Homo sapiens: one gene and its partners. The protein of the gene in region 3 interacts with the protein of the main gene of each other region in a biochemical or structural test. Each region holds a gene or a part of one and is shown on either strand. Other genes may lie near its edges.

Region 1 (12,828 bases), on a different chromosome or scaffold from region 3:
AAACATTAAACATAAAACAAACATGAAAAGATTTTGAAAGGTGGAAAGAAGGCAGACCAACCTGGGTTACTTGCGTCCTGAGAAACAACACATGAATGAGTCTTCAGGGTTTTCTTTTTGCTGCATGTATCCTAGACGGGGTGCCGGAGAAGCCAGCAACCTCGAAATATCAACAGTTGCAGACAAAGCTCCAAAAAAAGCTAATTTCCTTAGCCTAAAGACCAAAAAAGGAGCAGGCTAGCAAGTCAGAAAACTTACACTATCACTGCTCTTTTCAGCCAAACACCACAGAAAAACGGTAGCCTCATTCTTTTTTTTTTTTTTTTTTTTTGAGACAGAGTCTTGCTCTTTTTCCCAGGCTGGAGTGCAGTGGCGCGATCTCTGCTCACTGCAAGCTCCGCCTCCCGGGTTCACGCTATTCTCCTGCCTCAGCCTCCCGAGTAGCTGGGACCACAGGCGCCCGCCACCATGCCTGGCTAATTTTTTATATATTTTTTTTAGTAGAGATGGGGTTTCACTGTATTAGCCAGGATTGTCTCAATCTCCTGACCTTGATCCACCCGCCTTGGCCTCCCAAAGTGCTGGGATTACAGGCCTGAGCCACCGCGCCCAGCCAACTGTAGCCCCATTCTTAACAGCAAAGGCTGAGTGGGAAGTCTAGACTTCCATCTCCACTATGCTGTAGCACACCCCAACTTCCAATTAGAATAGTGTCAGAGAAGGTCCAGTAAAGGAATTTTCATCTCCTGTGGGCAGTAACAAACCTTCTTTCTCTCCCCAGACAGCGTAGCAGTGACCATGTGGGGAATCTACACTTACACTTCCAGCTGGCAGTAAGGGGGTGCCCCTCCCACTGCCTTCTGGGTTGGTATCAAAGAGACATGGTAGGGAGTCAGAACTTTCCACTGAAAATAACAAGCTCCCCTCCACAATGCAGTGTCATCTGTGGGGGCCACATAAGGAGCAGCCATGGTGCACTCAATGGAGGCCTGGTAGAGTGCCAGAACTCCTGCTTCCACCCAGCAGTGATGAGGATCTGCTCCCCTCCCTACCTGAGGTGTCAGTAGAGGCTGAGTGGAAAACCTGGACTTCTGCAAACTCCACCTGGCAGAAAAGAGGCAGCACCCCCTTAGTTTCACCAGAACAGTGTCAGAGGAGACCTTCTAAAAGAGATTTTAAATAAGATCCAGAATGTTGTAAGATGATGTCCAGGTTTGAATAGCAAACTGCTCATCATAATCAGAACTAGGAAAATTTTAACTGGAATTAGAAACAATAATAAACTAATACCAATGCTGAGATGACACAGATGTTAGAGTTATCTGACAAGTATTTAAAGGAATCACCATAAATATGTTTCAGTGAGCAACTGTAAACATACAAACAAGCAAAAAAATAGTCTCAGAAAGACATAGACAATATAAAATAGAGCCAACCAAAAATTACAATAACTGAAATAAAAGTCTCAATAGATGGTGTCAGCAGCAGAGTGAACAATGCAGAGGAGCGAATCAGAGACCTTCAACAAAGAAAAATAGAAATTATGCAGTCTGAACAACAGAGAGAAAATGATCAGAAAAAAAGTGACAGAGCCTCTGGGACCTGTAGAACTATAACAATAAAATTCTAACATTTGTGTCACTCGAATTACTAAAGGAGAGGAGAAAGGGCGTGGGAAGAAATGACGACAGAAAATTCAACAAATTTGACAAAAGACCTGAACTGACAAAAGACATGAACTACCAAGAAGCTTAGCAAACCACAAAAAGTGTAAACCCAAAGATATCCACACCAAGACACAATAGTCAGATTTCTGAAAATTAATGACAAAAAAGAAATCTTAAATACAGGACACACCTTACCTAGAAAGGAAACAACAGTGTAAGTGACAGCTGATTTCTTATCAGAAACCATGGAGGCCAGGAGGAAGTGGCATGACTTTTTCAGGTGCTAAAAAAACAAAAAAACAAACCTATCAACCTAGAATTCTGTGTTCAATTAAAACATCCTTCTCAAATGAAAAAGAAAATGACAACATTCTCAGATGAGGAAAAACTAAGATAATGTGTCACCAGCACACCTTCCCTAAAGGAATTGCAAAAGAAAATTCTCTAAACAGAAAGGAAATGATAAAAGAAGGAATCTTGGCCAGGTAGGGTGGTTCACACCTGTAATCCCAACACTTTGGGAGGCTGAGGCGAGCAGATCACTTGATGCCAGAAGTTTAAGACCAGCCTGGCCAACATGGCAAAACCCCATCTTTACTAAAAATACAAAAAAAATTAGCCAAGTGTGGTAGCGTGTACTTGTAATCCTAGCTACTCAGGAGGCTGAGGCTGAGGCTAGAGAACTGCTTGAACCTGGGAGGTGGAGGTTGGAGTGAGCCAAGCGCACCACTGCACTCCAGCCTGGGTGACACAGCAAGACTCTGTCTCCAAAAGAAAAAGGAGGAATTTTGAATTACCAGGAATAAAGAAACAGTAAAAGATGGGTAAATACATTTTTTTCTCCTCTTTATTTTTTATAGTAGGCAGTTGAAGCAGAAATTATATTGTCTAATATGATTCTCTGTGTATGAGAAAAAATATTTTAGACATTATAAACAGAGAGTAATGGGTCATAAAGAAAGGTAAAGTTTTTAGGTCAAGTGTGGTGGCTCATGTCTGTAATCCCAGCACTTTGGGAGGCCAAGGCCAGCGGATTGCTTGAGCCCAGGAGTTCAAGACCAGCCTGAGCAACAGGGTGAAACCCTGTCTCTACAAAAAATACAAAAATTAGCCAGGTGTGGTAGTGCACGCCTGTAGTCCCAGCTACTAGGGAGGCAGAGGTGGGAGGATCGCTTGAGTCCAGGAAGTTGAGGCTGCAGTGAGCCATAAGCATACCACTGTACTCCAGCCTGGGTGACAGAGTGAGACCCTTTCTCAAAAATAAATAAGATAAAAATTAAAAGAAGAAAGGGAAGATGTTTATACTTTACTCAAACTGGTAAGATGCCAATACCAGTGGAGTGTACTATATATTAAGCTATGCATATACAATGTAATATCTAGGGCAGCCACTGAAAAGGCCTTACAAGGAGATACATTCAAAAACACCATAGTTAAATCAAAAGGAATGCTAAAATAATGTTCAGGTAACCCACAGAAAGACAGGAAAGAAAATGTAGAAATAACAGAGATCAAACAAAAAAACAAAAACGGCAGACTTAACCCTAACATACTACCAATAATGACATTAAATGGAAATTAAATGGAATACCAATCAAAAGAGGTGGTAGGGGTAGATTTTTTTAAATCCCCCATTTATATATCTGTCAGAAACTCTTCAAATATAACAATATAGGCAAGTTGAACATCGGAAGATGTGAAGAGATAACATAACAAATATTAAAAAGAAAGCAGCATATTGGCAATGTTAATACCAATTAAAGTAGACTTCAGAGCAAAGAAAATTACCATGAACATAGAGGAATATTACATAATGATAAGAGTCAATCCACCAAAAATAAATAAAAATCCTAACTGTACACCAAACAACAGAGCTACAAAGTATGTGAAGCAAAAGTTGATAAGACTGGAAGGTTAAATAGACCAATCCATAATTATTGTTGGAGACTTCAGCACCCGTAAGAATCACCAAACATAGGAGAACTCAACTACACTGTCAGCTGTCAGAATTTGTTCAACATTTACAGAACCCTCTGCTTAACAGCACAATATGCCTTCTTTTCAAGTGCTTAAGGAACACACACCAAGGTAGACCACATCCCAAGCTATAAAACAAACACATTTGAAAGCACTGAAATCATACAGTTTCCTGACCAAAATGTACAGATGAGAATAACAGAAAAATCTGCAAACACATGGAAAGCAAACAATAAACTTCTAAATAACCCAGAGGTCAAAGAAGAAGTCTCAGTGAAAAAAATACATTGGAATGTTAATTATGTCTCATAAAACTGTTATGGCTCTTTATCTTTACAAAATATTTGAACAATGAAGTGAAAATACATCATCAAAATTTGTGAGATGCTGTTAACATGGTGATGAAGGTTAATTTATAGCACTAAATGCTTACCTTAGAAAAGAGGAAAAGTCTAAAATCAATAATTTAAACTCCTACTTCTGGAAACTAGAATAAGAAGAGTGAAATAAACCCAAAACAAGCAAAAGGAAGGACAAGTAACGATAAGAGCAGAGAACAAGGCAGTTAAAAGCAGAAAAACAATAGAGAAAATCAGTGAAACAAAAAGCTGTGTGAAAAGATCAACAAAATTAACAAACCTCTAGCAAGACTGATAAAGGAAAAAGAGAGGACACAAATTACCAGTATGAGGAATGAAATAGGGCATATACTATAGACCATATAGGTATCAAAAGAATCATAAGGAAATCCTATGAACAGTTCTAAACACAATTAAGACATGTAGATGAAAGGGACTAACTTCTCAAAAATCAAACTATCACAACTCATACAGTGTGAAATAGGTAATTTCAGTAGCCCTATATAAGTGTTAAGGAAAGCGAATCCATACTTTTTAAACTTTTTAGATATATGGATGAAAATAAACCTATGAAAAGAGGTTCACATAATTAGTCATTTGGGAAGTGCAAATTAAAACTATCATGAAATATTACTCCATAACCATGAAAAAAAGTAAGTTTTAAAATTATGTCAATAGCAAACTGGCAAGGATATGGAGAAACTAGATCACTTGGACATTGCAGATGGGGATATAAAATGGTACAGACATTCTGGAAAACCAATTGGCTGTGTTCCTGAAAAACTAAACATGTGCCTACTATGTGACCTAGCAATTGTATTCTTGGGCATGTATTCCAGAAAAATGAAAATGTATATTCTCACAAAAACCTGTATACTAATGTTTATAACAGCTCTATTTGTAATAGCCAAAAACTGAAAACAATCAAAATGTCCTACAGTAGGTGAATGGTTGAACAAACTTCGGTACATTTGTACCATGGAATACTCAGCCACAAGAAGGAATAAACTGTAGATACATACAATACAGAGATGGATTTTAAGGTCTTTATGTTGAGTTAAAAAAAAAAAAAACCTGTCTTGGCCAGGCGCGGTGACTCACGCCTGTAATCCCAGCACTTTGGGAGGCTGAGGCGGGCGGATCACGAGGTCAGGAAATCGAGACCATCCTGGCCAACATGGTGAAACCCCATCTCTATTAAAAATACAAAAAAAAAAAAAAAAAAAAGCCTGTCTCAAAAAGTCATATATTGCATGGTTCCATTTATATAACATTCTCAAAAAGACAAAATTATAGAAATGGAGAACCATTAGTTGCCAGGAGTATGGGTGGTGGGAGGACGGGGATGGGTGTGGCTATAACTAGTGACTGGAAAGAAATTGTTGTGATGACCAGTTCTGTATCTTCGTTGTGGTGGTGCTTACATGAACCTACATATGTGATAAAATGAGAGAATCATACACTCCTTATACCAGTGAGAATTTTCTGATTTTGTTATTGTACTATTGTTATATATAATGTCTCTACTGGGGGAAGCTGAGTGGAAGGGCACTTGGGACCTCTCTGTACTATCTTTGCAACTTTCTTTGAATGTATAATTATCTAAAAATTAACTAAAAGTTAGAATGATAAACTCTTAGAATCAGAAAGACCTTGAATGATTTATGTCCAATTTCTGCTTAAAGATGAGAAAGCCCAGAAACACTGTAAAACAGGTTTCCTAATGTGGAGTCTTAAAAAGTGAAGCATCAAAAACAAGATTTACTGATAGTGGTAACTCAGAAAGGTACATTTTTAAGTTGTGAAAATTTGGGTATTTTAGGCTGGGCACAGTAGCTCATGCCTGTTATCCCAGTACTTTGGGAGGCTGAGGCAGGCGGATCACCTGAGGTCAAGAGTTCAAAACCAGCCTGGCCAACATGGCAAAAGCCGTCTCTACCAAAAATAGAAAAATTAGCTGGACGCAGTGGTGCGTCCCTGTAGTCCCAGCTACAGAAGACAGATTCCCACTGTCTTCTTAAAAGGCAAGCTACTTAGAAAGTTGTATTAGGAGATACTATTTGCGTTTGAAACAGAACATTCATCTTAAGTGTTTGTCTTTTTTTTTTTCTTGTTTTTTGTTTTTAAGAACAAAATACTCACTTGAATGAATGACCAGAGTATTAATCACAGTGGTAACTTTTATCATTATAATTCCAGGGAAATCAAAGAAGAAATCTAGAATCTACAGTGTCTCAGATTGAGAAGGAGAAAATGTTGCTACAGCATAGAATTAATGAGTACCAAAGAAAAGCTGAACAGGAAAATGAGAAGAGAAGAAATGTAGAAAATGAAGGTAAATTGTCACTACTTTTGAAAAATGATAGAATTTCTAACACTGTCATGAGGTTGTCTTTAATTTAGTGTCCATGATACATACATGAAGCTACAATCCTAAGACACTTTATAAGCTAAATAACCCAGGTCTCAGGTTAAATTTATAACATATTAAATAGTAATTAAATTAAATATTAAATTACATATTAAAGTAAATAGTAAGTAGCATTTAACTAGAGTAGTGATTGTCATCATGGTGTGCATACTGGAATCTCCTGGGAAGCTTTAAAGAGTACTGATGCCTAAATCCCAGCGATTCTAATTTAATTGGTCTAGATATGTGGCCTGAGTATCATTATTCTTTACAAGCCCCCTAGGTACTTCTAACAAGCAGCTGCGTCTAAGAACTTCTAAACCAGAATTTCTTGTGTTTTAATGCTTGTGTTACAAATATATTTAAAATACCTTTCTACTCCCATTGATGCAGTAATTTCACTTCCATAAGTTATTTCACGTACATACTCCTACTGCAAACTGATATATACACAAGGCTATTCATTGTAGCATTGTTTAAAATGACAAAAAAAATGCAGTCAATGCTGTATATGAAACATAATGTAATACATATATGAAACATAAAGGTAATGAATGCTGTAATAAATTTTAGTACATCTATATGGTAGAATACTATGTGGCTTATAAAAAATAATAAATCATCTCCTTAAATACGGTTATAAAACAGTCTCTAAGACAGATCTTTAAGTGACAGAAACGGATTGCTTGTGTTTAAAACAAGAGTACTTGTCTATATATGCTTAAATTAAATATATATTAGGGAGGAGAGCCAGTTAAGGGAGACTCAGAAGGGGCAAAAATGACTAAATGGAGAAAGGAGGACTTATTCTATACTATCTACCATTTGGTACCTTTTAAATTTTGTATTTTTATTAAGATATTGAATTATCAAGCAATTGAACTCTTGAAAAATAAATAATATTAAAACTAGCTTTATAAGTATACTATCAGTGATCTTATAAAGGGAATAAAGGAGTTTGAGATTTACAACAGTAAGAAGAAATCTTTTTGCACTCTGTATTAGAAGATAATGTTCTACTTTTTAATGAATTTAAAATGCAGGTACTTCCAAATTGGAATTTGGCTTTGGGAGTGGACCTAATGTAGCTGACTATTATGGCCTAAGACTAAATGTCTTTTTTTAAAAAAGGATTTATATGTTTCCCCTATGAAAATGTTGTAATTTCTATATATTATTCTTTCATTTTCTAGTTTCTACATTAAAGGATCAGTTGGAAGACTTAAAGAAAGTCAGTCAGAATTCACAGCTTGCTAATGAGAAGCTGTCCCAGTTACAAAAGCAGGTAAGTGTTTCAAATGAGGTTCCTTTTTAAAAAAATTGTAGATAATTAAATTATATCGTACTTTGGTCAGAAACCTATTTTTTTGCTTTCTTTTTAAATAGCTAGAAGAAGCCAATGACTTACTTAGGACAGAATCGGACACAGCTGTAAGATTGAGGAAGAGTCACACAGAGATGAGCAAGTCAATTAGTCAGTTAGAGTCCCTGAACAGAGAGTTGCAAGAGAGAAATCGAATTTTAGAGAATTCTAAGTCACAAACAGACAAAGATTATTACCAGCTGCAAGCTATATTAGAAGCTGAACGAAGAGACAGAGGTCATGATTCTGAGATGATTGGAGACCTTCAAGGTAATATTTTTTCTTATTGTGGTAAAATATACGTAACATGAAATTTATTATAACATTTTAACCATTTTTATATATACAGTTCAGTGGGATTAAATGCAGTTCACAATGTATGCAACCATCATCATATAAGTGGAATCATACAGTGTTTGTCCTTTTGCGTCTGGCTTTTTTCACTTAGCACAATGTCTTCAAGGTTTATCCATGTTGTGTGTGTCAGATTTTCCTTCCTTTTTAGGGCTCAGTAATATTCCATGGTATGTGTATACCACATTTTGTTCATCCACTCATCTATCAATGGAAGGAATATTTTATAATTTTTATTTTTAATTGTTAAAAATATATAACATAAAATTTACCATCTTGACCATTTTTAAGTCTAAGTTAATATATTTATGATCATATTACCCTCATAAAGAAAATGACTTTGGTGAAACCAGAAATGGTTGCATTCTTTTTTATTGTTTACGTTTTTTTGAGATAGGAACTTGCTCTGTTGCACAGGCTGGAGTGCAGCGGCATGATCACAGCTCACTGCAGCCTTGAACTCCTGAGGTCAAGCAATTCTCCCACCTCAACCTCCTGAGTAGCTGGGACTACAGGTGCATGCCACCATGCCCAGCTAATTTTTGCATTTTTTGTAGAGACGGGGTTTCACCATTTTGCCCAGGCTGGTCTCAAACTCCTGAGCTCAAGCGATCCGCCCACCTCGACCTCCCAAAGTGCTGGCATTATGGGTGTGAGACACCACACCAGGCCAGCATTCTTTCTCTTTTAGAATAATGCCCACATTTGTATCACATTGTAATTTCTTCACCCTCACAGGTACTCCTGCAGGGTATGTAATGTGGATATTTTTCAGTTTTACAGACAAATTAACCAAAAACTTCATTTAAAAACTTGCCTAATTCATAAAGGTTTTACTCAAAGTGAGACTAATCCAGGCAAAGAGGATTATCACTATTAAAACCTAGGAATTCCTCATGCATCGTTGGTAGTAATAGAAAGTCAGTTGCAGAAATAAAATCCCATTACACATTAAAAGTTAGATACTTGGGAATGTTTGAACTGGAGATATTGACAGTCTTTGTGAATCTAAGAGGCAGAAGATTGAGTATAACTAAGTGAATAAATGAACAGTTTTTAAATAGTAATAAAATTCAGTTTGTTTTCAAAAAGATTCCTGGCTTTACCTACTCACATATTTTTCTATTTTCTATTCCTGTTAGCAGCAGCATCCATACTACCTAATCAAAACAAATATGCATAGAAGTTGCCAGATGTCTCAGGAAAAAATTGGAGGGAGGAGTTCTTTTTAACCTTAGTTAGAGATGGGAACATAGTTTCAGGTCCCTTGGGGCTTGATGATTAGCTATAATTCAGTGGAGAGAGGTCAGGGTCAGTTTTTGTGACTAAGGAAACAGAAAATACAATCTCCTGTTGGTTCTTAGCTGAGGAGTGTTGTGCAATCATATTTCTCAGGGACCAGGCTTAAAATAGATCTGATTATAACTAAGAAAGTAACCACTTTATATGTAATAGGAAAGTCACAGACTTCCTTAAATTGTTTTCCTAGGCCTTTTTATACAGCTTATTAGCTGTTTGAAAGTCTCTTCATCTCCCTTCTTTATCTGTAAACCAAGGAGATAAGAATAGGTTACCTCTATAAATCCTTCCAATTCTAAAATTCTTATAAGTTTGTGATCTGTGTTTGACTGAGCTTTAAGCTCCTTGCTTCAGAGGCAGAGATCATCCATGTACTATCAACAGTGGTTTTTAACTGAATCTATTTTTTAGATATCAGTAAAAGTTAAGGAAAATTTATAGCATGATTTATTGTTAGTTTATTCTTTTTCAGAGTTTAATTTGGAACTTAAACGTGAATAAAAGCTCACATACACTAAAATAATGCACACAACTTATGTGAGTTTCAACATACATATAAAAGTGCATTGTGGGTTTTTAAAAAAATCACAATGCTTATATTAGTCTTTTCTGGTCTTTAAGAACTTTCAGGTCTCTCAAGTATAAATTTAGTTTGGGATGGTGGGCTTCTGGCAGAGTCTTGATTGTTATTCATTAATTGAATGTCCTCCATATATGATCTCTGTTGCATAGTCTTTTTTATTTTTTACTTTTTATAACCTTTTAAAGTATAAAAACCATTCTTAGCTTGACATCTGTACAGAAACAGGCTGCAGCCCTGATGTTTGCCAGTACCTGGACTAGTGCAACAGTAAGGCTGCAATTGATTATAGGGAAAGTTTCCAAAAGTTCAGGCTATAGAGGCTTAATGAAAGTGATCAAAATGTTATGGAGGATTGAAATTTTAACTGAATTGATAAGCTTTCATCTAGTAAGTTTATCTCTGATTCTTCAGATTGAAAGGCAAAAATCAATTTTTTTAAATTAACCATTTTTAAAAGTCTTTTTCTGTTTTTTTTAATTGTTTGCTTGGAACCAGAAGTGCTTCAGATTTTGGATTTTGGGTGGTTTGTGAGAATATTTGCATTATGTATACTTACCAGTTGAGTATCCCAAATCTGAAATCCTTGAATGTCATGTCAGTGCTCAAAAAGTTTCAGAATTTGGAGCATTTTGGATTTTTGGATTTTCCAATTAAGGATGCCTAACCTGTACTATAGTGACCTCTTGTGTACTCATTAAGCTTCAAAAACCTTCATTTGGTAGCCAGTCGTGTTTCATTTTGTACCTCCACCTCCCCTTCCCAATCCTCTGACACTGAATTATTTTGAAGCTCATATCAGGCACCACATTGTCCTTTTGTAAATACATCCTAATTTGTAAATATTTCATTATCTTAAAGATAGGGACTCTTTTTTAAAAAGACAAACATAACTACAATGCCATTATCAAAGGTAGAAAATAGGTGACAGTTATATAATATTATAAAATATCTAATTAGTGCTTAAGTTCCTCTAGTAGTCTCATAATTTGTTCTTATTGCATTTATTTTGCTTGAATTTGGATCCAAAGTTTGGACATTGCATTTCATTAATACGTCCCTTAAGTTTATTTTAATCTGTATTTTCCTCCTCCCTTTTGTGTTCTTTGTAATCTCTTTTTGCTGTTGTTTTCGGTTAAAGAAACCATGTTTTTTTCGTCCTGTGAGTGGCTCCTGTTCAGAATTTTACTGATTTCATCTGCTGGTATCATTTAGCATGTTGCTCTGTCCGCCGTAGTACTTTAAACTAGACGTTAGATCTAGAGATGTGATCTACTTCGGTAGGACTTTGTCAAGAATACTTGTAAGTAGTATTTAGGTACCAGGAGACACATAAACATAAAATCTGGGCTGGGTGCAGTGGCTCACACCTGTAAAACCAACACTTTGGGAGGCTGAGGTGGGTGGATCTCTTGAGCCCAGGAGTTTGAGGCCAGCCTGAACAACATGACGAAACCTCATCTCTACAAAAAATAAAAAATTAGCGAGGTATGGTGGCATGCACCTGTAGTCCTAGCTACTTAGGAGGCTCAGGTGGAGGATTGCTTGAGCCCAGGAGATGGAGGTTGCAGTGAGCTGAAATCGTGCCACTGTACTTCAGCCTGGGCAACAGAACAAGACCCTGTCTCAAAAACAACAACAAACAAACGAATGAAAAAACATAAAGTCTGGCTGTATCTTTTTGTGGTGTTAGTAGCCATTGATGATCATTGCCTAGGTCCTTTGTTTCTTTAGGAATTTGCAGTGGTGATCATCTATTTTTATCCATCTTCCTTCATTTGTTAATTGGAATACTACTCTAGAGATGAACATTTCCTCATCAATTATATAGTAGTTACTTTGAGGTACAGCTTATAAAAGAAAGTCAGGTTAAATACTTAATTCTTTGTCAGTTTTTGGAACAGTGAGTTATTTCCCAGGCATCCTCCAAAGATGATTAGTGAATTTTTAAAATATATTTGTGAACTCATGAATTTTAATATATTTAATATATGTTAGCCCTTTGCATTATTCTTAATGATGCTCACATGAAGTTTAGTAGGAATTCTTTAAGTTTAGACACTACCCTAGTAGTTTTAGATCACATCCTTGCTTTTTGATATGCATAGATTTTCCAGAATTATTTTTTGTCCCAGACCTGAAATCACCCATTTGCCTAGGAACTCCGGTTCCTTTTGTAGCATATGACATTCGGGGTCTATAACCTGAATTCTATGGGTGCTCACTACTGTTGGGTTGGTCAATGTTTGTAGGTGATTTTAATGGACAGAGGTAGGAAACAATTTTTTTTGTAATTAATAATTTCTTATTGTGATCAGGAACTATTAAAAGATTTCTACTTTGGGATTTCTACTTTTAATGATTTTTTTTCTGGCTTAGTTTATAAATGATTTTTGCATTTCACTGTTACATGGGCATTTGAAAATTGTCGATTTTTGTATGAAACATCTTTTTGGGTGAAAAGTTGATCCGTTTTCTAATGTAATCCATCAGTTTTCTAAGATTGCATTTATTCTTTGTCCCTTTGTTCTGTCAAATTTTAAAATGTGTTTTAAAAGTTTTCACTATCATTGTGGGTTTTTTCTCATAGCCTCCCATGTATTTCTTTTCTTTTTTTTTTTTTGAGACGGAGCCTCACTCTGTCACCCAGGCTACAGTGCAGTGGCATGATCTCGGCTCATTGCAACCTCTGCCTCCCAGGTTCAAGTGGTTCTCCTGCCTCAGCCTCCCAAGTAGCTGGGACTACAGGCATGCGCCACCATGCCCAGCTAATTTTTGTATTTTTAGTAGAGACAGGGTTTCACCATGTTGGCCAGGAT
Region 2 (3,514 bases), on a different chromosome or scaffold from region 3:
CTCCAGCCTGGTGACAGAGCGAGACTCCGTCTCAAAAAAAATTAAGAAAAAGATGAAATAAAATGGTAGTTGGGGACATAGTTGGCTGGGACTTGACCTGTTGTGGTCTCGTTGCTCCCCCTCGGCAGTTCTGGGAGGTGATCAGTGATGAACATGGCATCGACCCCACCGGCACCTACCACGGGGACAGCGACCTGCAGCTGGACCGCATCTCTGTGTACTACAATGAAGCCACAGGTAAGGGCAGGAGCCCGGGCAGCTCAGGTTCCCTTCCCTGTCTCCCACTTATCTGGGATCTCTTTCCATTTCTGGGCACGCCTTATCCCCTTTGGGTGAATCTGTCATTTTGTCCCTTTCGTGAACCACCGTCGGGGCCAAAGACGTCTGCTGCCACCTGGTGGCGGGACCTGGAATGACAAGTCTCTGATCCCTGCTGTCTCCCATTTCCAGTATATCTATAAACCTTCCCTTCTGCCAGATTTCACAGCTCTTAACTTTATTCTCTGTAGGTGGCAAATATGTTCCTCGTGCCATCCTGGTGGATCTAGAACCTGGGACCATGGACTCTGTTCGCTCAGGTCCTTTTGGCCAGATCTTTAGACCAGACAACTTTGTATTTGGTGAGTTATACAGATGATATTAGCAGATGATATACCATCGTGTTCAACTTATTTGGGTGCAAGGACACAGCAAAAGTTAGGAGATGATTGTTGTATTGGAGTGCTAATACAGAAATGTGTTCTGAAATCTAACGGAGGGTAGAGGTAGTGCCTACTATTGCTGGTAAATTATGGGGCAGTAGGGGGAGAATATATCACAGTGAAGGAGAAAGAAGATACATCCGAGGGAATTATTTGAAAAGTTGAAAGATGGAAACATCATGTATCTTCCATACCCTGTTAATTGAGCTTTTCTCCTGACTGCATTCCAGGTCAGTCTGGGGCAGGTAACAACTGGGCCAAAGGCCACTACACAGAGGGCGCCGAGCTGGTTGATTCTGTCCTGGATGTGGTACGGAAGGAGGCAGAGAGCTGTGACTGCCTGCAGGGCTTCCAGCTGACCCACTCACTGGGCGGGGGCACAGGCTCTGGAATGGGCACTCTCCTTATCAGCAAGATCCGAGAAGAATACCCTGATCGCATCATGAATACCTTCAGTGTGGTGCCTTCACCCAAAGTGTCTGACACCGTGGTCGAGCCCTACAATGCCACCCTCTCCGTCCATCAGTTGGTAGAGAATACTGATGAGACCTATTGCATTGACAACGAGGCCCTCTATGATATCTGCTTCCGCACTCTGAAGCTGACCACACCAACCTACGGGGATCTGAACCACCTTGTCTCAGCCACCATGAGTGGTGTCACCACCTGCCTCCGTTTCCCTGGCCAGCTCAATGCTGACCTCCGCAAGTTGGCAGTCAACATGGTCCCCTTCCCACGTCTCCATTTCTTTATGCCTGGCTTTGCCCCTCTCACCAGCCGTGGAAGCCAGCAGTATCGAGCTCTCACAGTGCCGGAACTCACCCAGCAGGTCTTCGATGCCAAGAACATGATGGCTGCCTGTGACCCCCGCCACGGCCGATACCTCACCGTGGCTGCTGTCTTCCGTGGTCGGATGTCCATGAAGGAGGTCGATGAGCAGATGCTTAACGTGCAGAACAAGAACAGCAGCTACTTTGTGGAATGGATCCCCAACAATGTCAAGACAGCCGTCTGTGACATCCCACCTCGTGGCCTCAAGATGGCAGTCACCTTCATTGGCAATAGCACAGCCATCCAGGAGCTCTTCAAGCGCATCTCGGAGCAGTTCACTGCCATGTTCCGCCGGAAGGCCTTCCTCCACTGGTACACAGGCGAGGGCATGGACGAGATGGAGTTCACCGAGGCTGAGAGCAACATGAACGACCTCGTCTCTGAGTATCAGCAGTACCAGGATGCCACCGCAGAAGAGGAGGAGGATTTCGGTGAGGAGGCCGAAGAGGAGGCCTAAGGCAGAGCCCCCATCACCTCAGGCTTCTCAGTTCCCTTAGCCGTCTTACTCAACTGCCCCTTTCCTCTCCCTCAGAATTTGTGTTTGCTGCCTCTATCTTGTTTTTTGTTTTTTCTTCTGGGGGGGGTCTAGAACAGTGCCTGGCACATAGTAGGCGCTCAATAAATACTTGTTTGTTGAATGTCTCCTCTCTCTTTCCACTCTGGGAAACCTAGGTTTCTGCCATTCTGGGTGACCCTGTATTTCTTTCTGGTGCCCATTCCATTTGTCCAGTTAATACTTCCTCTTAAAAATCTCCAAGAAGCTGGGTCTCCAGATCCCATTTAGAACCAACCAGGTGCTGAAAACACATGTAGATAATGGCCATCATCCTAAGCCCAAAGTAGAAAATGGTAGAAGGTAGTGGGTAGAAGTCACTATATAAGGAAGGGGATGGGATTTTCCATTCTAAAAGTTTTGGAGAGGGAAATCCAGGCTATTAAAGTCACTAAATTTCTAAGTATGTCCATTTCCCATCTCAGCTTCAAGGGAGGTGTCAGCAGTATTATCTCCACTTTCAATCTCCCTCCAAGCTCTACTCTGGAGGAGTCTGTCCCACTCTGTCAAGTGGAATCCTTCCCTTTCCAACTCTACCTCCCTCACTCAGCTCCTTTCCCCTGATCAGAGAAAGGGATCAAGGGGGTTGGGAGGGGGGAAAGAGACCAGCCTTGGTCCCTAAGCCTCCAGAAACGTCTTCTTAATCCCCACCTTTTCTTACTCCCAAAAAAGAATGAACACCCCTGACTCTGGAGTGGTGTATACTGCCACATCAGTGTTTGAGTCAGTCCCCAGAGGAGAGGGGAACCCTCCTCCATCTTTTTTGCAACATCTCATTTCTTCCTTTTGCTGTTGCTTCCCCCCTCACACACTTGGTTTTGTTCTATCCTACATTTGAGATTTCTATTTTATGTTGAACTTGCTGCTTTTTTTCATATTGAAAAGATGACATCGCCCCAAGAGCCAAAAATAAATGGGAATTGAAAAAAGCTGCGAGATGTGTGCTTATTTAGGGAAACACGGCTGGCTGATGGAGGCATGGGGCCTGAGTTCAGTTGCACTGCTCTCCTTAAATTGACACTTAATATTGAGTCCCTGTCCTACGGATTCAACCAACTGGATATTGGGAAAAGAGTTGTACTGGACATGTATAGACTTCTCATTATTCCCTAAACAATAATAGTATAAATTATTTACATAATATTTGCATTAGATTAGGTATTACAAGTAACGTAGAGATGATTTGAAGTACACAGGTTATATGCAAGTACTACATTTTATATGAGGGACTTGGGTGTCTGCCGATTTGGTATCTCAGGGAGGTACTGGTAAGGACACTGACTGCTTTATAGACCCTCACATCATTGTTTCTGGTACCCAAACTGCTCTGAGCACCAGTCAGTCTTTACTGTAGTCTCTGACAGCTCACTACAGCCTTGATGTCCTGGGCTCAAACAATCCATCTCATTCTCCCAAGCAGCTGGGACTG
Region 3 (13,199 bases):
TTATTCAGGGATGCAGGTAAGATAAAATCTTATTCTGAGATGCAATTATTTAAGAACAGAGTTTTAAAATATTTATAGATGTAAGGGGTAGAAGTGCAGATTTCTTCCATGCATATATTGCATAGTGGTGACATCTGGGCTTTTAGTGTACCCATCGCCTGAATAGTGAACATTGTACTGAAGAAGTAATTTTTCAACTCTCACCCCCTTCCACCCTCCCACCTTTTGGAGTGTCCAGTGTCATCTTATTCCACTCCATACGTCCATGTGTATACATTGTTTAGCTCCCACTTATACTTGAGAACATGTGGTATTTGACTTTTTGTTTCTGAGTTATTTCACTCAGGATAATGGCCTCTATCCATGTTGCTCAAAAGATATGATTTCATTCTTTGTTAACGGACGGGTAGTATTACCTTGTGTATATATGCTACATTTTCTTTAACCAGGCCTCCACTGATGGATGCTTAGGTTCATCCATTTTCTTTTCTGTTGTGAATAGTATTGTGATAAACATAAAGTGCAGGTGGTTTTTGATATAATTAATTCTTTCCCTTTGGGTATATACCGAGTAGTGGGGTTGCTGAACCAAATAGTTGTTCTATTTTTAGTTCTTTGAGAAATCTCCATACTGTTTTCCAGAAAGATTACACTGATTTACATTCCCCCCAACAGTACTTCAGCATTCCCCTTTCTCCACATCTTCACTAAAATCTCTTACTTTTAGACTTTAATAATAGCCATTCTGACTTGTCTAAGATGGTATTGCATTCAGATTTTAATTTGCCTTTCTCTGATAATTGGTGATGTTGAGCATTTTTTTCATGTTTTTTGACCACTTTTGTGTCTTCTTTGTAAAAATGGCTGTTCATATCCTTTGCCCACTTTTTAATGGGCTTATTTGGTTTGAGTTCCTTGTAGATTGTGGATATTAGCCCTTTGTCAGATGCATAGTTTGCAAATATTTTCCCATTCTGCAGGTTGTCTATTTACCCTGTTGATAGTTTCTTTTGCTGTGCAGAAGGTTTCTAGTTTAAGTTCCATTTGTCTATTTTTGTTTTTGTTGCAATTGCTCTTGAGGACTTGTTCATAAATTCTTTGCCTAGGCCAATGTCCAGAAGAATTTTTCCTAAGTTTTCTTCTAGGATTTTTATAGTGTTTGGTCCTATGTTTAGGTCTTCAATCCCTCTTGAGTTAACTTTTGTATATGGTGAGAGGTATTTGTCCAGTTTCATTCTGCTGCATATGCCAATCCACTTTTCCCAGCACCATTTATTGAAAAGGGTGTCATTTCCTCAGTGTCATTTCCTGATTTTTATTGACTTTGTGTCTTTATTTCTGAGTCCTCTATTCTGTTCCATTAATCTAGATGTCTATTTTTGTACTACTACCATGCTGTTTTGGTTACCATACCCTTGTAGTATAATTTGAAGTCAGGTAATGTGATGCCTGAAACTTTGTTCTTCTAGCTTTGGATTGCTTTGGCTAGTTGGGCTCTTTTTGGGTTCCATGTGAATTTTAGGATTTTTTTTCTAATTTGATAGAGATTGTGTTGGGTCTGTAGATTGCTTTGAACAGTATGATAATTTTTAACAATATTGATTCTTCCAATCCATGAGCATGGGATGCTTTTCTGTTTGTGTCATGTATGATTTCTTTCATCAGTGTGTTGTAGTTCTCCTTATAAAGATCTTTCACTTCCTTGGTTAAATATATATCTAGGTAATTTTTTGTAGCTACAATAAATGAGATTGCCTTCCTGATTTGGTTCTTGGCCAGATTGTTATTGGTGTATAAGAATGCTATTGATTTCTGTACATTAATTTTGTGTCCTTAAATGCTACTGAATTTATTTATCAAATCTAAGAGTTTTTTGGTGGAGTCGTAATACGGTTTGGCTGTGTCCGCACCCAAATCTCATCTTGAATTGTAGCTCCCATAATTCCCGTGTGTTGTGGGAGGGACCAGCTAGGAGACAATTGAATCATGGGGGCAGTTTTCACCATCCTGTTCTCATGGGAGTGAATAAGTCTCATGAGACCTGATGGTTTTATAAGGGGAAACCCCTTTCACTTGGCTTTCACCCTCTCTCTTGCCTGCTGCCGTGTATGATCTGCCTTTTGCCGTCCACCATGACTGGGAGGCCTCCCCAGCCGTGTGGAACTGTAAGTCCATGAAACCTCATTTTGTTTATAAATTACCCAGTCTCAGGCATGTCTTTACCAGCAGTGATACAAGTCTTCAGGGTTTTCTATGTAGAATATAATTTCACCAACAGAAAGGGATAGTTTGGGCTCCTTCTTCTCCAATGTGCATTCCCTTTATTTCTTTCTCTTGCCTGATTGCTCTGGCCAGGACTTTCAGTACTGTGTTGAATAAGAGTGGTGAAAGTGGGCATCCATGTCTTATACCAGTTCTTAGAAGGAATACTTTCAACTTTTCCCCCTTAATTCTGATGTTGGCTGTGGATCTGTCATATGAGGCTTTTATTATGTTGATGCATGTTCCTTCTATGCCTCATTTGTTGAGAATTTTTATCATGAAGAGAGGCTGAATTTAATCAAATGCTTTTTCTGCATCTATTTAATGATCATATGGTTTTTATCCTTAATTCTGTTCATGTGATACGTCACATTTATTGATTTGCGTCCCTGGGATAAATCCCACCTGATCAGGGTGTATTATCCTTTTGATGTGCTGTTGGGTTCTATTTTCTGGTATTTCGTTGAGGATTTTTGCATCTATATTCACAGGGATATTGATCTGGAGTTTTCTTTTTTTGTTGCGCCTTTGTCTGGTTTTGGTCCGAGGGTGATACTGGCCTCATAGAATGAGTTAGAGAGATATCCCCCCTCTTCGATTTCTTGGAATAGTTTCAGAAGGATTGGTATTAGTTCTTCATATGTTTGGTAGAATCTGGCTGTGAATCCATCTAGTCCTGGGCTGAGTGCAGGGCATCCACACAACAAGTGAAGCCACTTCTGGCAGTGGGGAAAACAGTTACAGGGACAGAAGCTGACCAGGCTCCTTGTGGTCTGCTTGGAGCCATCTCGGCTTTACAGAGCTCATTGCCCACTGCCTCTGAAAGCCACACCCAGGGCTGCCCTTGCCAGAGGGGTGTGTCCTCTCCACTGCAGACACAAGTTCCTCCCTTCTCTGCGGCCCTCCGCTCTGCAACGCCATCCTCTCTCTGGTCCTCCGTGTCTCTGCCAGGCATGGGCTCCTGTCCACATCTTTTCTTCCCAGCACGCTGTCCTGTTGCCGTGTCCCCGCATCTTTCTTCCCTAACATCGGCTGTGGAACTGAGGTAGCGATGGCTGGCGTATTAAGAATGTGCTCCAAGCAGCTCAGCCTAGGGCTGAACACCCCCCATTTGGCTTCCCCTCCTCATCAGCCCCTGACCTGTGGCAACAGTGAAGCCGCAAGGCTCACCTGCCGTTCTCTGGGTCACAGGTGTGTGATAGGGGGGCCAGAGTCGCTCCCTGGCAGCAAGACCCGGAACCTGCACTTTAATTCCATGTTCCACAGCAATTCCACCCCCAGAATAACCAGATGCAATCACAGCCCAAACACACACAGGCACGTGCACACACACAGGTGCAAACACACACACATGCACACAAAGACACACAGGCCCATGCACACACAGGCACACGCAGGCACACAGACACATGCACACACATGCAAACACACAGACACAGGCACGTGGACATACAGGTGCAAACACACATGCACACACAGAGACACAGGCACACGCAGACACACTCATACACACAGAGACACACAAATAGACACACACACAGCTGAACATACACAGCTGAACACATACCAACATACATACACCGGCATGCATACTCACACATACAGGTGCACATTCACACATAGGAATGCACAAACACACGCATGCATGTGCACACTCTCACACTCTCACACACAGGTGCACACACACATCCCGGCAGACATTTTCCCTAAGCTGCCAAGGACCCATGGGAGCTGCTTCAACACCCCCATGAGGCTTCCCAGGCCCCACACCCAGGCAGGCACGTCGTTACTTCACTGACCACCCCCTCTGACCTCATGCACCTAGGCTGTAGCTTGTCCCCAGCCCAGGGCCCACACAGGAGCTGGTTAGGGTTCTCAAGGGGCCCTGACTGCTCACCTGCTGTGGGACACACCCCTACGGGGCCCAAAGAAGCTGCTCAGCCTATAGGCCGTCAAAGGACATTCAGCTGCCAGGGGTGGGTGGACACCTGACAGGTCCAGCTGCAGGACACCTCAGTGCTGGGACCCGGCATCCTCACACTTGGCCTCGGAGGCCTTTTCATGTCTGCTGCTGTCCGCGTGAGTCCATTGCTCCCCCCGCTCCCCGTGCCTCTGTCTTCAGCATGGGGCCTCCCAATGGACCTGGGCTCCTGTCCTGGTCTCCCACTGCAGACCCAGATGGCCCAGCATCTCCCACCATCCCTTCCACCCAGGGCTTCCAGTGCTACCCACCATGCTGTGTCTGCTCTTCCCAACCTCCACTGTCAGCCTGAACCTCTACCCACAAAACCCAACCCCAAACCCAGGCAGGGGTGGGCGCGGGTGCCAGGCAGCAGGGGCTTGTCCCGGAGAGCTGTCCTCCTCCTATGTGACAGCTGCCTGGCCTGGTGCTCCCAACTGCGGACGCAGAACCTGTGCAGGAAGCCGTGGAAACAGCTACAAGCAGGCAGGTGTCCCGGGGAACGCTCCTGGTCACTGACACGGTAACACAGGTGGAGCTGGGAAAAGCATTGGTGCTGGGGTGGTAGTGACCCCCACCCAAGAAAGTCACATTGACCCGGAACCTCAGAGTAAGACCTTACGTTAAAATAGGATCTTTGTAGATGTAATTCGATTAAAGATCTTGAGATTATCCCAGCTTCTCCTGGCGGCCCTTAAATCCAGTGACAGGTGTCCCGATAAGCAAAGGAAGAGACAGACACACTAACTCGGGGGAGGAGGCCCCGTGAGGACAGGGGCAGAGGTGGAGCCATGCGGCCACCACCCAGGACCGCCTGGAGCCACAGAAGCTGGAAGAGGTGGGAACCTCCGGAGCGCACAGGCCTTGATCTCGGACTTCTGGCCTCCTAAGCCGTAAGAGGAAAGCCCTGTTGTTCAACCCATTTGTAGTGATTTTCTAAGGATCCCCAGGAAACATCTTATAACGGGACACTTGGCGTGGATCACATCATTGGCTGTGAGTCGGTTTTCAGTAATTGCAGGGTTAATGGAGGCTGTCCAGGTCTGGCAGTGGAGCAAGAGCTGGGGGCCAGGAAGGGCCACCGGACGGGCAGCCATGGCCAGGTGAAGAGCCTGGAGTCCCGAATCAGGATCCACCTCTCCCTGCTGAGCAAGATCCTGTGCCCCTGTTTCTGGTGATTTTGTAAGTGCTGACTGAACCGACTGTCGCTGGGAAATAACACACCCGTGACCCCAAGCCAAAGTTTCACCCACAGACAAGGAAACAGACTCCATGAACACGCCGACTCCCGACGGTAGAACCGGGGTGCCCACCCCAGCCCCGGTCACTGTGTGTCCTGCGCAGGGGCCAGGGCAGCCCAAGGCTCAGCTCTGTCCTCCTGCCCAGACCTCGCTCAGCCCCCTGGACGCCGCCCCGCGCCCGCTGCCTCTCCTCTCCTCTCCTCCCAAAGGCTCCAGGACCATGTCTGCCTCTGAAGCCTGACGTTACCTCCCACTGCGATTTTATTGTAAACTCACTGCATTTATGTCAAGAGAGTTTGTACAGGTTTTGGAAAATGCACTGAAGAGTCCCCTTGTGCCTATTAGGACGGTAAGAACACACCAAGGAGAGATTATTTCATTATTTCTTTGATGCTGTTAGTAGGATCTACCCGAGGGGGAGGCACTCCGGGCTCCGCGGGACGAGAAGGCAGCCGAGCCCGCACCCGAGCAGGAGGGAAGCAGGAGCCGCAGCGTGGCCGCCGCACAGCTTCGGGGGTCCCCCGACTTCCCAGCTGCGAGTGTGGAATTTCTCAGGAGAACTAGACAGAAGCCCATCTCTGGGCAGCACTGAGTGGAAGGAGAAACCACAGGAGAGGAGAGGAAGTGTGGGGCGCGGGACCACCGTGGGGTGGGTGGGGGCCAAGCCGCCGGGCTGTGAGGCCTCAGCACCCCCTGCCCAGCACCCAGCACCCCAACTTCCCCTTCTGCCTTTGCGGATTCCAGGGCCTGCTGGACACCTGGTGCAGGGACAGAGCCGGGGCTGGGGGAGGAGCTCAGCTGCACTAGAGTCCAGCTGGAAGAGTCCAGCTGAAAGTCACCAGAGGCACCCCTTCCTCCTGGGGGGCTGCGCCTCGGCCTCCTCCAGGGCAGGTGCCCCTATGCCCCTCAAGTCCCAGCACCCAGCACCACAGAACCGCCCTGTCATCTCGGCCCCGGAACCTTGTGGGGAGCCAACTCCTGCGGAGGGCCGGGCAGCCCCGGGCGGAATGAGCCCCCTCCGCAAAGCCTGTCTGGGGAGCGGGGGAGGGGCGGCAGGTGCCCGGAGAAAGGCGAGATTGGAAGAGCGGCCGGGATGGTGGCGCTGCATACGGGCGACCTGCAGGGAGAACGGAAGCTGAGGCCGGGGTCAGGGGTGCGCGCTCCGCTCCTCCACTCCTGCGTGAAGGGCGGCCCACTCCCGAGCAGCTGCGCTGGGCGCCCGGCACGGACCCGTCTCCCTGCTCAGGTCGATCCCCGGCCGCGCTGCCCCCACCTGGAAGCCCAGTCCCCTGGGTGCGCCCCGCCTTGGGGTCCGAGCACCCTCACAGCCCGGCCCTGCCGCTTCCCTGCACCGTCTGCGGCTCCTTAAAGAACTGGGCGCGGTCGGGGCTCGCCCCGCACCGTCCTCGAGGCCCCGCCGCCAACCCACCCCACCCCAGGAGGCCGCGGCCGCGCTCATCCATCCCCCGCCGCACCGTCAACGCGCGTCCTGCGGGGCGGAGAGATCGGGGTCCGGTCGTCCCCGGGGGGCCCCAGAGCCAGGTGAGGGGCCCCGCCGCCCCCTGCCCAGCGGTTCCCACGACCCGCGGGTCGGCCGCGCCCTGCGCTGAGCGGATACCCGGCGGTCCGCGGGGCCTGAGCAGAGTCGGCCTTGTAAGGCAGAGGTCTCGGTGCGCCCGCGCGTCCCCGGGCCGGGTGGGGCGGCGGGGGCGGGGCTGCCAATGAGCGCGCGGGGCGGGACGCTGGGCGGGCGCCGGACGCTGGGGGCCGGGGGCGGGCCCGGGACCGGGCTGGGCGGGGCTGGGCGGTGCTGGGCGGGACGGGCGGGCGCGGGGCGGCGGCTGGAGAGCTCCGCTGAGCACCGGGTCGCGCGCGGCCGAGTCGCGGAGGCGCCTCCGCTGCAGTCGCTGCGTCTCCAAGGTAAGCGGGCGCGGGGCTCGGTCCCGCGGGCGCGGCGCGGGGGGCACCCGGGGGCGGAGACTGGGCCCGTCAGCCCCAGCAGCCACCTGCGCCGCAGCCCCTGCCCCCCGCGCTCCCCCGAGCCCCCTTCCCGGACCGCCCCGCGCGTCCCTGAGCCCCCGGATTGGGATGCCCGGAGTTCGGCGCTGCGGGCTCGGTGCGAGGACGCGACGGGGAGGCTTTGCAAAGGCCGCGAGCGGGGGTCACCGTCGGCCGCGCCAGGGACAGGTCTGTCACCGTCTCCGGGCCCTGTGCCTGGCGCTTTGGCCTTTCTTCGCGGCCACGGACGCCCCTGCAGCCCTTCCCTCCAGACCCTCCCCAGCTCGGGACTCGAACCGTTTCCCTATTCCCAGGCCTAGGGGGCCGCCGGTGTGAGGCGTGGGAAATTAGGGCGTGGAGGGCTGGAATGAAGTCACTGCCCGCAGCAGGTTTTGAGAGATCCCTGGCCACAGAAACGGCCCATCTCAGGGTCCTGACACCACCGCGTCCTGGCAGGTGGGGCTGTCAGACCGCCCCCCGCAGAGCCTCCAGCTGCCCCGGGTCTTGGCTACTGTCCGCGGGCCTGTGGCGATGGAGAGGCGCTGCCGGGACACCTTCCCGCACCCCTGGGAGCAGCGCCCGAAGATCTGAGGAGCCCTTTATTCTGCGGTTTCGGTTACGTAAACGGAGCCGAGGGAGGTGAGAAGCCTGTCCCTCCCGGGCAGTGGCGGGGCTGCTGTTTTGATAAGGGTTTTGGGGGGGCTGTTGTCTTGATGGGGGTTTGGGGGGCTGCTGTTTTGATAGGGGTTGGGAGGCTGCTATTTTGATACGGGGTTGGGGGCTGCTGTTTTGATAGGGGTTTGGGGGGCTGCTGTTTTGATAGGGGGTTGGAGGGCTGCTGTTTTGATAGGGTTGGGGGACTGCTGTTTTGATAGGGGGTTGGGAGCTGCAGTTTTGATAGGGGTTTGGGGGCTGCTGTTTTGATAGGGGGTTGGGAGGCTGCTGTTTTGATAGGTGGTTGGGAGGCTACTGTTTTGATAGGGGGTTGGGGGGCTGCTGTTTTGATAGGGGTTGGGGGCTGCTGTTTTGATAGGTGGTTGGGGGCTGCTGTTTTGATGGGGTCTGGGGGGCTGCTGTTTTGATGTGGGGTTGGGAGGCTGCTGTCTTGATGGGGGCTTAGGGGGGCTGCTGTTTTGATAGGGGGTTGGGGGCTGCTGTTTTGATAGGGGTTGGGAGGCTGCTGTTTTGATAGGGGTTGGGGGGCTGCTGTTTTGATGGGGTCTGGGGGCTGCTGTTTTGATGAGGGGTTGGGGGCTGCTGTTTTGATACGGGTTGGGGGGGCTGTTGTCTTGATGGGGGTTTGGGGGGCTGCTGTTTTGATGGGGGTTTAGGGGGCTGCTGTTTTGATGGGGGTTGAGGGCTGCTGTTTTGATGGGGGTTGAGGGCTGCTGTTTTGATGAGGGTTGGGGGCTGTTTTGATGGGTATTTGGGGGCTGCTGTTTTGATGGGGGTTGGGGGCTGCTGTTTTGATGGGGGTTGGGGGCTATTGTTTTGATGGGGTTTGGGGGGCTGCTGTTTTGATGGGTATTTGGGGGCTGCTGTTTTGATGGGGGTTGGGGGCTGCTGTTTTGATGGGGTTTGGGGGCTGCTGTTTTGATGGGGGTTGGGGGCTATTGTTTTGATGGGGGTTGGGGGGCTGCTGTTTTGATGGGGTGTTGCGTTCCCTCTCAGTGTCACCGCTGATCCACCTGGCATGTTTATTGGCTCTTCTGCTTGCAGGGCCCCTGGGGGACCGATAGAGGACTGGGCCCCTCCGCCCACCCCGGCCACCCCTCCCCGCCTGACTTCTCAGGGGGAGAGGTCTCCCCCCACGCCCAGCCAGCCCCTGCCCCTGGGAGGTGACCCAGCTCCCTGTGGCCTGGGACTAGGAGATGGGGCTGGACCAAGGCCGGGAAGGGGCAGGAAGTGGAGGGGAGTGAGGCAGCTGCAGCCTGATGCCGCCGCCTTGAACTGGGCTCTCGCGCCTGTCAGCCGCTCGGTGCCAGCGCCTCCCCACCACGTGATCCTCGGAGGGCCTGTGGGGGAGGGGCGGGCTCCCGGAGCGGCTGCAGAAGGCGAGCTCCAGGAGGGTGTGTGCGTTTTCCCGGGAGGGGTCTGCAGCTTTCATGGTTTCTAAACGGATCTCTGATTCAGAAAGGCGCCGGCATGAACTCGCTTTGCATCTTCACAAAACATGAAGTCATGGGGATTGGACCGCGTGTGCGTGGAGGAAGCTCCGCTGGTCACTGGCTGCGTTTTAATCTTACAGCTGCGGTTGGTCTATCTTCCCGAATTCCCTGAAGTTGCAATAAATGTTTTAGCGATTATACGAGGTTATAAATGCTCGTTGTGGAAATGAGCATAGAATGCTCACAGAAATGGTCAACAGGGGCTTCCTTTTGACCCCCTACCCTAATTTGCAAGCCTCACACTGGCAGTGGCTGCCCTAGGCCTGGGAATCGGTAAACAGGGTTCGTGCACCGGGCTGGGCAGGGCCCGGAGGGAGGGGCCGCAGGGGGCTTCCGTGGGCACAAAGGCCAAAGCGCCACACGCAGGGCTCAGGAGAACTTCCTGAAGAAAATTAGGATCACCCATCGCAGATGGAGACTGGGGAGCTCTCTGGAGAGTCAGGCAGTCTGTTCCCTCCCAGGCCTGTGGGAGCCACCCCCTGCAGAGGACGCAGAGAATTAAAAGCTTCCTCGGGAGAGGCCGTGCCAGCAGAGAGCCGAGTCTATTTATAGCTGTTGGTGAGACAGGGGGAGTGTGTGAGAGGGATGCCATCTGGGGCTCTTGGGGCCCCCAGGCCAGTGCTGGTCAGCGCCCTGCAGTACCTGGCCCAGCCTGGTGCCCTCAGGCAGAAGCGCCTTCGGGAAAACACTCTGGGTGAGGAGAGTCGCTCAATGCCTCCGCCTGGGCTGGGGGAGCCAGAAGGCTATGCCCAGGAGGGTTGTGGCCGGGTGTCTAGTCCATCTGAGCCCACAAACCCTCAGCCAGGAGCCAGGATCAGGCAGCAGAATCTACACACGCCTAGTTCCTACTGCTCGAGCAAAAGGTGTTTCCTGGGAAGGAAGGGGTGGAGCTGCCTGGGTCAGGCCCAGCCACATCTGGGGCTCAGGCCTTGTCCCCAGCATCCACGAGCCAAACCCCAAGCTGCCCTGCGTGGATCCTCCTCCTAGGGAGACCAGCTTCTTCTTGGTGTGTGTGTGTTTGGGGTTGCCACAGGGCCATAACCCACTGCATCCCCCTGATAAGATCTTCCACCCAGGGCAGCCCCCACCCAGGGCAGCCCCCACCCAGTTGATCCCCCACCCAGATGATCCTCCACCCAGATGATCCCCCACCCAGATGATCCCCCACCCAGATGATCTGCCACCTGGATGATCCCCCACCGGGGACATCCCCCACCCAGGGCAGCCCCCACTCAGATGATCCCCCACCCGGGGCAGCCCCCACCCAGATGATCTCTCACACAGGGCTTCCCTCCTAGGGCATCTGCAACAGGCTTTCCCCCTAAGGTGACATCCCCCTCCCAGGACATCCACATCCCAGAGCCACCCCCTCCCAGAGCCACCCCCTAGGCCATTCCTTCACCAAGGCTCCACCACCCAGGACAACCCCCACAAAGATTCCCCACCCAGAGCATCCTCCCCACATGGCATCTCCACCCAGGGTATTCCCCCACCCAGGGCATGTTCCCCACATGGCATCCCACGTTTGACTTCTTGGCATGATAAAAGGTGCCTGCCCATGTGGGCTCCATGAGATCCCCCAGGGCGCATGGCATCACAGACCACATTTCCCAGATCCTATAACCTGTAACCCCAACCTGCTCGTTTGTTCACAAATGTCCAACGTGGCCTCCGCCCAGGGAGTGCCACCAACAGCCGCACCTGCCAGGCGACTTCACACAGCTGCTGTCCCCCTCTGGCCATCAGTCATCAGTCAATGGGGCCAGGAGCAGTGAGCACCGTGTATGGGGTATGGAGGTGGCTTCAAACCCAGGCCCTGGTCCAAGGGCCCTCATGTCTGACACAGGCGAGCTCCCAGCACCCTCTGCCTTGTCAGGAGTATGTGACATGCCTTCCTGGCCCACAGAGGTGGGTGAAGTGTGCGTACCTCAGCGTGCCCATGGCTGCCACTCACTGTTCACCCACTCACACTGGATCCCCGCCCAGAAACACACCAGGCCAGTCCCACCCCACTCAGAAGTGCTGCTGGTGCCTCAGGGCCAGGGAGCCATGTCCAGGCCCCAGCCAGCCCCGGGGACCTGACCCAGCCCCTCCCCCTGAGCCCAGGGCACCGCTGCACAGCCACCTGCATCTCCCACCCATGGCATCTCGCAGGTGACCTGGCCACCGTGGCTGCATCTGGGGCGTCCACCCTCTCCTGCGCACACCGGCCCCCGCTTCTCCTAAGGCTGCCCAAGGGCCGGTTTTCTCTGCCCCTCGGCGGGGTGGCACCTCTGCCTTCTCAGTGCCTGAGGAGCCTGGGCCATGGACAGAGCCACTGGGGTGAAGCTCATCTCAGCCTCACCTCCCACCAGGCTTGTTCCTGCCACCTTCGTCAGTGCCCACGTGTCCCCAGGCCGCCTGCTGGGAGGGCCCCACCTGGCACCTGGCACAGTCCACCTGCAGTTCTAGTGCCAGCCGTTCTGGGCCGCCTCTCTTCGTGTTCCGGGAGTGGGATGGGGTCTTACTCACCGTCCGTTTTCCCGTCGAAGCTGCAATTCCTGAGCACTGTGCTTTGGCTTTGCCTGTTTTTAACCTTTAACCAGAAGCCACGTGGTGGGCACACTGCTGTGCTGGCTAACGTGGATCAATACTGTGCGCGAGTGGTCCGTCCACACTGCGTCGAGGAGCCCCAGGTGCTCGTGCTCAGCGCCGCCCACACTCCCACGGGGATGCCCGCTGTCCCTGAGACCACCATACTGTCAGCAGGTGCATGTCCACGCGGTTCCCCTTTCTTGGCAACTAGGGATGAAGCTGTCGTGGGCATTCCTGGGATGTTCTTTGGGGCATGTGGTCATGAGTCTCTTGGGTCAATCTGGAAGTGGAGCCGTTGAGTCTGGGATCTAGTGTGTCTTTTCGTTCATCAGATGATGCCAAGCAGTTTCCCAAAGGGATTAAAGCCATTCGCCCCCACAGTTTCCTGTTGACCCACATCCTTGCCGGCACTAGCCACTGTCAGCCTTTGCAATGTCTTAGCCTTTTGTAAGGCTGTGTGGAAGCCTTATGATTTGCATTTTCCTGGTCATACTAACGAAGCTGAGTGCTTCCCACCGAGCACTGGGCACTTGGATACCCTCGTCCCCGAGGGGCCTGTTCAAGTCAGCTGCCCTTTGTGGATTGAGTTCCTATCGATTTGTAGAGGTTCTTTATATATTCTGGAGACAAGCCAACATTTGTTGTGCATAGCAAACATCTCCTACCCTGGGGTTTGCTTTTTCACTCTCTTGATGATATTTTTTCAACGAACAGAAGTTCTTTCTTTTAATCTGGTGCCTTCTAAGAATCTTTTCCTGCAGGACAAGGCTTTCTGTGTCCGTGTAACAAATTTCCCCCACGCCAAGAACATCAGAAATTCTTTTGCATTACCTTCCCAAAGCTTCTAGATCTGATCTGGAGGACAGCCCTTTAGCATGCAGACGCAGCTGAACCTTCCCTTAAATCAGCAAATTCCCGTCAGCTGACTTCCTCACACCAGCCACGTATGCAGCCTTCATTTTCTCCACCTAAAAATGGGCAACCAGAGGCTGGATG

The links.
Region 1: of the proteins of TPPP (region 3) and ROCK1, one has a biochemical effect on the other in vitro, tested with the Homo sapiens proteins (one study listed by BioGRID).
Region 2: the proteins of TPPP (region 3) and TUBB form a complex in vitro, tested with the Homo sapiens proteins (one study listed by BioGRID).

The regions. Positions count from the first base shown.
Region 1 is NC_000018.10:21,001,569-21,014,396, reverse strand, and holds part of ROCK1 (rho-associated protein kinase 1), read left to right. Parts: intron 1-6,202; coding exon 6,203-6,338; intron 6,339-7,606; coding exon 7,607-7,698; intron 7,699-7,799; coding exon 7,800-8,046; intron 8,047-12,828. UniProt on the Homo sapiens protein: Protein kinase which is a key regulator of the actin cytoskeleton and cell polarity.
Region 2 is NC_000006.12:30,722,409-30,725,922, forward strand, and holds the end of TUBB (tubulin beta chain), read left to right. Parts: intron 1-128; coding exon 129-237; intron 238-509; coding exon 510-620; intron 621-931; coding exon 932-1,989; 3' UTR 1,990-3,014; downstream 3,015-3,514. UniProt on the Homo sapiens protein: Tubulin is the major constituent of microtubules, a cylinder consisting of laterally associated linear protofilaments composed of alpha- and beta-tubulin heterodimers.
Region 3 is NC_000005.10:687,462-700,660, reverse strand, and holds the start of TPPP (tubulin polymerization-promoting protein), read left to right. Parts: upstream 1-7,308; 5' UTR 7,309-7,383; intron 7,384-7,917; exon of another isoform or gene 7,918-8,100; intron 8,101-13,199.